Linked DNA regions of Homo sapiens: regions 1 and 2 are each reported to be linked to region 3. Evidence: microRNA targets listed by miRTarBase, many of them from high-throughput screens and not tested one by one. Region 3 holds a microRNA gene; each other region holds the end of a gene's coding sequence.

Region 1 (3,234 bases), not on the chromosome of region 3:
TTCTGTGGGCCAGTCCTCACCTCACCAGTCAGCCCCATCTCTACTGGACTGGCTTCTCTTTGAGGGGCTGAGCACAGAGCGGGTGTCCATATTAGAAAGCTACAATTAATTATTATTATTATTATTATTATTATTATTTTTAGAGAGAGACAGGGTTAGCTCTGTTGCCCAGGCTGGAGTACAATGTTGTAATCAGCTCACTGCAGCCTCGACCTGCTGGGCTCAAGTGATCCTCCCATCTCAGCCTCCTGAGTATCTGGGAATACAGGCATGACACTAGCTTTTTTTTTTTTTGAGATGGAGTCTCACTCTGTCACCCAGGCTGGGGTGCAGTGGCGCCATCTCGGCTCACTGCAACCTCCGCCTCCCAGGTTCAAGCAATTCTGCTGCCTCAGCCTCCCGAGTAGCTGGGACCACGGGCGCGCACCATCACGCCCGGCTAATTTTTTGTATTTTTAGCAGAGATGGGGTTTCACTGTGTTAGCCAGGATGGTCTCGATCTCCTGACCTTATGATCTGCCCGCCTTGGCCTCCCAAAGTGCTGGGATTACAAGTGTGACCCACCGTGCCCGGCCAATTTTAAAATTTTTTTGTAGAGACAGGGTATTAGTAGGTTGCCTAGGGTGGTCAAACCTTAAGTGATCCTCCTGCCTTGGCCTCCCAAAGTGCTGGGATTACAGCTGTGAGGCACCATGCTTGGCCAGGATTTGGTTTATTTTAGTATTAGAGACAGGGTCTTGCTGAGTTGCCCAGGCTGGAGTGCAGTGACGCGATCATAGCTCACTTCAGCCTTGAACTCCCGGGATCAAGTGATCCTCCAGCCTCGGCCTCACAAAGTGCTGGGACTACAGGCATGCACCACCACTCCCAAAATTCAGGAATTTTTTTTTTTTTTTGAGACAGAGTCTCACTCTATTGCTCAGACTGGAATTCCATGGTGCAGTCTTGGCTCACTGCAGCCTCCACCTCCTGCCTCAGCCTCTCAAGTATCAGGGACTACAGGCACGTGCCACCATGCCCAGCTAATTTTTGTATTTTTAGTAGAGACAGGGTTTCACCATGTTGGTGAGGCTGGTCTGGAACTCCTGACCTCAGATGATCCGCCCGCCTTGGCCTCCCAAAGTGCTGGGATTACAGGCATGAGCCACTGCGCCCAGCCCAAAATTCAGGATCTTTAGGCTCAGACCATAGCAGGACTCCAGTCTTAGTCCCAGTTAGGTGAAGACTAAGAGGGCACAGAAATGGGATTGGGGTGCAGGGGGCAGGAGTGACCCAGAGTGCATTGAGGGTGGGAGCATGTGGCATGTGGGACCTGCCTCTCTCCATAGGTCCCAGATGGGTTTGGCGGCTGTAGCTTCAAGACTAACAGGACCTGCTGGACCATTTGGGATGCAGATTTTGGAAGGGAAACTGAGACAAATTCTTTATTTTCTTTTCTTTCTTTTTTTTTTTTTTGAGATGGAGTCTCGCTCTGTTGCCCAGGCTGGAGGGCAGTGGCGCAATCTCGGCTCACTGCAAGCTCCTTCTCCCAGGTTCATGCCATTTTCCTGCCTCAGCCTCCCGAGCAGCTGGGACTACAGGCGCCCGCCACCACGCCCGGCTACTTTTTTGTATTTTTAGTAGAGACAAGGTTTCCCCATGTTAGCCAGGATGGTCTCGATCTCCTGACCTTGTGATCTGCCCGCCTCGGCCTCCCAAAGTGCTAGGATTACAGGTGTGAGGCACCGCGCCCACCTCCTCCCTCCCTCCCTCCCTTCCTTCCTTTCTTTTTTTCTGAGACAGGGTCTTGCTCTGTTGCCCAGGCTGGAGTGCAGTGGCATGATCTCGGCTCACGGCAGCCTCTGCCTCCCGGGTTCAAGTGATTCTCCTGCTTCAGCCTTCCCAGTAGCTGGGATTACAGGCAGGCACCACCACACCCGGCTTTTTTTTTTTTCTTTTTTAAATTTTTAGTAGAAACAGGGTTTTGCTGTGTTATCCAGGCTGGTCTTGAACTCCTGGTCTCACGTGATCTGCCCGCCTCAGCCTCCCAAAGTGCTGGGATTACAGGCGTGAGCCACTGCGCCCAGCCCAAACTGGGACAAATTCAAGCTTTATGGTCACATATGAATGCAAGGCATGGCTCTGTGCAGTCTTGGGTCAGTGAACCTCTCTGAACCTCCATTGTTCCACCTGTAAGATGGGGTCCTTCACAGCTCCTACCTCACAGGGCTGTGAAAACATCGTCCTTGTTGGGCACTTAGTAAGTTAACTCGTGCTTTCACCTGGCAAAGGTTTATTGCCTTAGTGATGACAGAATGAGCAAAGTCACGCTTGTTAAGGACCCCCCCCTCCCCAACTGTGCCTGGCACTTTGCCAACAGCACAGGACTCAAGACCCATTTCTTAATCACATGGCAGTTGGGAGGTAGATTCTGCTGTTAGTCCCCTTTGACACACACAGAAATGGAGAATGGGCAGCAGGTGTGATGTTGGAGGAAGACCAGGGCCCAGGGGCGGGGGCTGCAGCAGTGACCTGGTGACCCAGGGCCTGGGCAGGACTGGAGGCCAAAGGACTGGACTTTTAGGCTATTGCAGCCCAGGTAAACGAGGCTCTCATTGGCAGGGCCTGGCTCCCCACCAGGCCGGCAGGCAGATAGGCGGGCGAAAGAGAAGGCAGTATCCCAGGGCCCAGCTCAGATCTTCTCCACGTAGTTTCCTGGGAAAAGGCCCTCCTGGCCGTGAAGCCGGCCCTTCCACCAGCCCGAGGGATCTGTGGGAGAGAGGAAAGCTTGAGGTGCCCCTAGCTGGCCCTGGAGAAAGCTCTCATGCCTGGTCTGTCCATCTTGTTCATGGGGACTCCCTATGTTGTCCAGGCTGGTCTTAAACTCCTAGGCTTAAGCCATCCTCCTGCCTCAGCCTCCCAAAGTGCTGGAATTACAGGTGTGAGCCACTGCATCCGGCCATTTCTACTCTTTAAAAGTTTTTTTTTTGTAAATCTTTTGTAGAGATGGGGTCTTGCTAGGTTGCCCAGGCTTGTCTCAAACTCCTGACCTCAAGTGATCCTCCTGCCTCAGCCACTGAAAGTGCTGGGATTACAGGTATGAGCCACCTCGCCCATCTGTTATCTCTGTTCTCCCGTGGGGAGGGTGTGCAGTGGTGGGGTCTGCCTGGCAATGTCAGTCAGGGTTCTTTTTTTTTTTTTTTTTGAGACGGAGTCTCGCTCTATCGCCCAGGCTGGAGTGTGTTGGCGCAATCT
Region 2 (3,351 bases), not on the chromosome of region 3:
GCCAATCATTATAGTCCTTTACTTCTCACTAAACCTTGTTGCTACTTCTCTTCCTTTGAAAGGTTATTTCTAACCAGGGCAACCACATACTTTATTGGCCAAACCAAATCACTTTTGAAAGTGTCTCAAGGTGAGGTGCCATTAATTATTACACTGAGACAACAGGCATAAACTGGGACTCTACTGGACAAGTCAGAACTCATGATCATTCTAGGAGCCCCCAAACTCACCTTCATTCCATTCCTGCCCAAAGATGTAAAAATGATCCCACCTCCTTTTTCCCATTAGGTGCAAGATTTGGTTCCTAATGTGGTCAGGGTCCAAGCATCTCACCCTTTATTCTTCTGCTTCACAGGTCAGCCTTACTTTATACCATAAGGAGGAGCTTGAATAACCTCCAGGATTTGGCTCATAATCCAGGCCTCTCTCCACGTGTGCCTGATTGATGCTCCAAATTGGCTTCCACGGGCCAAACCTTGGCTGTTCCAGAAACTGAACCCCAGGAATTGCTTACACACTTTCTTCCAGCGTAGCATCTCTTCAAACACAATGCTCTTCCCCTTGACCACTTCTCAGTATGAAACTCTATGTCTTCAACTTTCAGACCCCCCATTTATTTGTATGAAGGCTTCAGTTGCCTTAATAAAGTGCTCTGTGGGGTCCGATCTCTCCGAGGCTGAATAATTCACATCTGCAATATGCTGATATTGACATACACTCACATCTCTCTATATGCAATTTTCAGAGAACAAAAAGCCATTGCATTTTCTGGTGACACCAAAAAAGGGAGAGAGTATGAAAATCCTGCAAATTGAGAATGCTAGTGACATTGTTACTTTGGTAAAGTTGTCGTTAAGATGCTGAAGAATGGAGCCAGTGCAGATCCAGATTTTGTATGGTCTAAACCTGATAAATGAGGAGCTCCTTTAGAAACCAAGCACAGGCTGGGCACGGTGGCTCACGCCTGTAATCCCAGCACTTTGGGAGGCCAAGGAGGGCGGATCACCTGAGGTCAGGAGTTCAAGACCAGCCTGACCAACGTGGAGAAACACCATCTCTACTAAAAATACAAAATTAGCCAGGCGTGGTGGTGCATGCCTGTAATCCCAACTACTCGGGAGGCTGAGGCAGGAGAATTGTTTGAACCCAGGAGGCAAAAGTTGCAGTGAGCTGAGATTGCACCATTGCACTCCAGCCTGGGCAATAAGAACAAAACTCAAAAAAAAAAAAAAAAAAAAAAGAAAGAAAGAAAGAAAAGAAAAAAGAAAGAAACCAAGCACAAATGAGTACAAAAGAGAATATTATTTCAAATGAGGAGGGAAATTGCAACCAGCTGCAAATTTTTAAAGGCTGACAAACAGTAAAAATTGCACAAAACCCATATAAATTAATAATTCATTGTTTACATTTATGACCTCAATTCTGTAAAGCACTATTTCTGTGGAGAGAATGGAAAGATAACTTTTTATTTAATGTGGGGATCAAAATATGATATTTTAATTTTTATTATAGGTGAATTGGATAAAACATGTACCTGAATGCTTGAAGCCATGCTTGATGTCTGCAGTTCTGTTACAGGTTTGTGTCCTAGAAACACAGGAATTTTAATAAATTATCTTTTGTACAACTCTATTAAAAAAAGAAAAAATGCATGGTACATTTAAAATTGTACATATTGAATTATCAAGTATATGCTTACTACAAAAGAACTTCTGAACAGGCTTCCATAAGAGCTGATTTTTTTTTTCTAATTAAAATGTGATGTATCTGACCAGACTCAGTGGTTCATGCCTGTAATCCCAGCACTTTGGGAGGCCGAAGGGGGCAGATCACCTGATGTCAAGAGTTCAAGACCAGACTGGCCAACGTGGTGAAACCCCATCTCTACTAAAAATACAAGAAATTAGCCAGGTGTGGTGGTGCACACTTGTAGCCCCAGCTACTCAGGAGGCTGAGGCAGGAGAATTGCTTGAACCCGGGAGGTGGAGGTTGCAGTGAGCCAAGATCGTGCCATTGCACTCTAGCCTGGGCGGTGGAGTGAGACTCCATCTCAAAAAAAAAATTGATGTATCTGATATTTGAAAGAATGCTACACAGGCTTGTTTTCCTGGCTCCACACATTTCAAAACTTGTTTCTCCTCTACCACCCGCAACCTTCTTGGGCTAAGAACATTCATTTTACAGTGCAACCTCTAGTCCCATAACTTAGTGTCATAACATCAAGGGAATAGGCCCAGTAGAAAACAGGAGTATTATTTGCAGCTGCTTCTCCACCAGGACAGCTAGCAGCAACTTCCTACACATACAAATGACAGCTAACGACCTAAATATATTCTACTAACTCCAAAATAAATATATCCCCAACTCAACTTCCTTTTAATTTGCATGCCTAAAATGCTGGCAGTCGCCCAAACACCACCTGACCTAGGAGAAGTGTGACAGAGGGAAAGGTCAGAGTGGAAAGGGAAGGTGGATTGGCGATTATGGTTAGAATATCTTACTTTTGCAGATATTACAAGTCATCTGACCATGTAAACATATAGCTAGAAGCACTCCCAGAATCTTAAAAGGGGCTCGCTCGAGCGAGGACCCTGAGGCTTGGCTCCATCGACCTCATGGTAAGTCCGTCTCTGAAAGGGCTCATGGACTTGTTTACTGGAGTTGTAGTAAAGAAGACAGTTCCATAGTATGGTGCAGAAACTCCAAAATTGAAAATAGCTGGACAGGCATGAAAGGGGGAGATGGAGGAAAGCAGAGAAGAGTTAAAGAGGAAGGGAGAAGAAAGGGGTGAAGGAGGAAAAGACACTGGATGGTGTGACTGTTTTAAAGCAAGGTCCTAAAATTCTTTCACTCACCTTCCACCTAGAAGTGGGATCTATGTCCCCTCCTTTTGAATCTGAGAAAACTCTGTGACTGCTTTGACCAAGAGAATAAAGCAAAAATGATGCTATGTGACCTCCAAGGCTAAGCTAGAATAAGTGCAAGTCCCACTTGATCCTCTTATGTAGCTTGTTTGGGGGCAGTGGGAAACTGCCATGTAAGATGTCCAACTACTCTGAGAGAGGCCCATGCTAGAGAGACCCATGTGGGTGCTGTGATCAGCAGGCCCAGATAAGCTCTGACTGATAGCCAGCATCAATTTCAGCCATGCAAATGAGATGCCCAACCCAATAGAGCCTTCAGATGGCTGCAGCCCCAGCAGACATCTGACTGCAACCATGGGAAAGACCCTATAAAAGAACCACCAAGCAGATTGCTTCCCAGATGGCTGACCCACAATATAAAATGGTTGCTTTAAAGTGCTAAGTTTTCAGAAAATTTATTCACAGAATAGGTGATCAAAGATGGAAA
Region 3 (3,000 bases):
TGCCCGTCTTGGAATTATCTCTATGTTCTGTAGTGAAACACTGGATCCTTTCCTGACTAGTTATTGCAGATTTTATTAATTTACTTACCCTAGAAATTGGAATCCCATTAAAATTTTAATAGAAGGTGTTTTTAACACAAAAAATGCCTTCTAACAAAAATTCAGGTTGAAGCTGACCACTATGAAGAAAAAAATAAGAATTTGTGAGACATATCTTCCCATATTCATATGGCATAATTTGGGGGAACCATGCCAATTTCATGTTGCCATGGTATGCTTGGGGTTAAGCTTTTATTCCATCACAAATCACTTTAAATTTGATTCATCTAAGTTTTGGACATTTTATTGGCATCAATCTGACTAAAGAAACAGTTAGGTTTCTAAAAATATCATAAGATTGATTCGGCACCTAGGAGTAGGGGGCAATTGGAAACCAGCTAAAGATGCTACAGGATCAATTTCCTTATTCAGGAAGACCATCTCTTTGGAAAAAAAACTTATCTGACTCCATATTGATCCCCTAAAAAGAGAATTAAATTTACATATTTGGTTACTGTGATTTCAGAGGTGTCAAGATAAGTTATTCATGTAAGCGAGTTGTTTCCACATGTTAAAACTCTGTCCAAGCAGCAGAAAAGTGCTTTCTGGGACTCAGAAGGCAGCGCTGGAAACTGCAGGAACATCTACCCCAGCTGTGAGCCTGCCATCAGCTGGAATTCACTAAATTCACTATGCCATTTAGAAAGACACTCCTAGCTGAAGGTCATACTTCCTTGGGTCTTTTCTCAAACCTGACTTTCTAAAGACTGCCCTAGTTTTTTTCTTCCTTCACCTGACCTCAGTGAAAACTACAATAAACCTCAGCGGAATTTCCACATGAGGAAGCAGTTGTAAAAGGAATTCTGGTACTCAAGTTCCCATTGTGGGCCCCGTGAGCTGAAGGAAAGGATATGCGGGCTGGGGAGGCAGGAATGGAGATAACCACAGAACCAGTTCCCCAAGTGGCTGCAGCCTGCCATGCACACTCTGACAGCCAGTTTGAGAACAAGCCCTGCAGAATGATTTGAGGAAGAATTTTTTTTTCTTTTTAGAGGAAGCAGGTGGGGAGAGTGAGGGAACTAACATTTAGTGCGGTTGGGGAGCTTTAAGGAAATACCTATGCTCCAACCCCATAGACTCTGCTTCGGATGACTTGGAGAGGAACTCAGGCACAGGTATTTTAGAAAGTGTCTTAGGTTTGAACCAAAATAAACAATGTCAGTATTGGATTATAAAACCAATAAAATAAAATAAATATCCATGAGTCCATGATAATTTCAATAAATAACTGAATAAATAAACAAATAAATGGAGGAGAAGAAACAGCATTTCAAGACAGAAAAATTCCAATAAACAATGTAGAAAAAATGAGGGACTAGGAAACCATCCTCAGAACGTTGCAGTAATTGTCGCAGGCAAGATGCACCAAATGAACAGAACATTAATGGGGAAAAAGATGAGGAGAAATAGGCTACCTGCATAACCTGAAAGTATCTCTCCCAAGTTATTTATTAATGACAAAGGGAAAAATACTATCTTTACAATAGGTAAACCCAGCAGACATTACCTTAACCAAGTGATGAAGGTTAACATTGCCAGTAATAAGACGTATGGACATCACATACTTCCTGTTATGAGATTCTGGGAAGGGCCTATGGCTTCTGTGGTATCCTTCTCAGTAATGCATAACCTCAATCTAAGCACAGGAAAACATTAGATAAACCCCAAGTGAAGGACATTCTATGAAATACGTGACTAGTCCTCATCAAAAGTGTCATGAAATGCAGGGAAAGCCTGAGGAACGGCCATGGATTTAGAGACTGAGGACACCTGATAAATAAATGCAAAGGGAACCTGGATTCGTTCTTGGAGGACATAAAGGACATTAGTAGAGAAACTGGTAAAATCTCAATAATGCCTGTAGTTTAGCTGAGCATTATACTCATGTTAATTTCTTACTTTTGATAATTGGACCATAGGAATGCAAATCCGCATTAGGGGAAGCTGGATAAAAGTTATATGAACTCTCAGTATTATTTTTGCAACCTTTCTGTAACTCTAAAATTATTTGAAACAAAAATAAACATATTTTTAAATAATACATATCATAACAACAAAGCTTTTTAGAAGATTCAAATGGTGGAAAGCTCCTTGAGATTCTAATATGCAGCTAAGTTTGAGACAACTGATTTTGTAAGTACCTGCTCAGCTTCTGCGCTTAACTGATGTGATCTCCTTTACATCCTCATCAGCCCTCTGAGGCAAGTATTGCAGCTCCCATTTGATAGGGAGCATCTGATACCCAGGGAGACAGTCCACTGCCTGGCTTTCAGCACACAACCTGACTTATTGTCCATCCAAGCTGCTGGACTTGACTATTTCAGCTCAGAACACAGTGCTCAGCACTCCACATACACTCACTTATTTAGTCCTCACAACACCCCTATAAGACAGTGTCAGTCCATTTTGTGTTGCTAGAAAAGAATACCCAAGTCTGGGTAATTTATAAAGAAAAAAGCCTTATTTGGCCCATGATTCTGATGTCTCAAAAAATTCAAGGTTGGGCATCTGGGGAGAGCCCCAGGCTGCTTCCACTCCTAGCAGAAAGTGAAGGGGAGCTGGCATGTGCATAAATCACAAGGCGAGAGAGGAAGAAGAGAAAGGGGGAGGTGCCAGGCTCTTTTTAACAACTAGCTCTGTTGGGGGCAAATAGAGTGAGAACTCACTCATGCCCCGCCCCAGGGAGGGCACTAATCTATTCATGAGGGATCTGCCCCCATGACCCAAACACCTGCCACTAGGCCCCACGTCCAACACTGAGGATCAAATTTCAACATGAGATTTGGTGGGAACAAACAAAACATATCCAAACTATAGCAGAGAGCTACTATTAGCACCCCTACTCTGCAGACGAGGAAACTCATGCACAGAAAAACTGAAGTTTCGCAGCCAAGGTTTGGA

The links. Region 3 holds the annotated microRNA hsa-miR-7156-5p (UUGUUCUCAAACUGGCUGUCAGA, at 1,026-1,048, opposite strand). A microRNA usually pairs through its seed, bases 2 to 8, with sites in the 3' UTR of a target mRNA and lowers its output. Matches are read on the target gene's strand: a 7mer-m8 pairs with bases 2 to 8, a 7mer-A1 pairs with bases 2 to 7 and ends in A, and an 8mer does both.
Region 1: miRTarBase lists MYO1F as a target of hsa-miR-7156-5p. The part of its 3' UTR that is shown has no 7-base or 8-base seed match.
Region 2: the mRNA of WFDC6 is a reported target of hsa-miR-7156-5p. The part of its 3' UTR that is shown has no 7-base or 8-base seed match.

The regions. Positions count from the first base shown.
Region 1 is chr19:8,518,857-8,522,090 of GRCh38, forward strand. It overlaps MYO1F (myosin IF), which reads right to left. Exons shown (of 28, transcript NM_012335.4): 28 at 1,922-2,748. The coding sequence ends at 2,672. Among named protein-coding and RNA genes, the nearest start is that of ZNF414, 6.3 kb to the left of the region's middle.
Region 2 is chr20:45,531,510-45,534,860 of GRCh38, reverse strand. WFDC6 (WAP four-disulfide core domain 6) reads left to right here. Exons shown (of 3, transcript NM_080827.2): 3 at 356-665. The coding sequence ends at 394. LOC107987282 (a long non-coding RNA gene) reads right to left here. Exons shown (of 4, transcript XR_001754641.3): 2 at 1,535-1,587. Among named protein-coding and RNA genes, the nearest start is that of WFDC6, 6.3 kb to the left of the region's middle.
Region 3 is chr1:77,058,191-77,061,190 of GRCh38, reverse strand. MIR7156 (microRNA 7156) reads right to left here and starts at 1,048; the gene lies at 989-1,048. All of the region lies in intron 4 of ST6GALNAC5 (ST6 N-acetylgalactosaminide alpha-2,6-sialyltransferase 5), which reads right to left.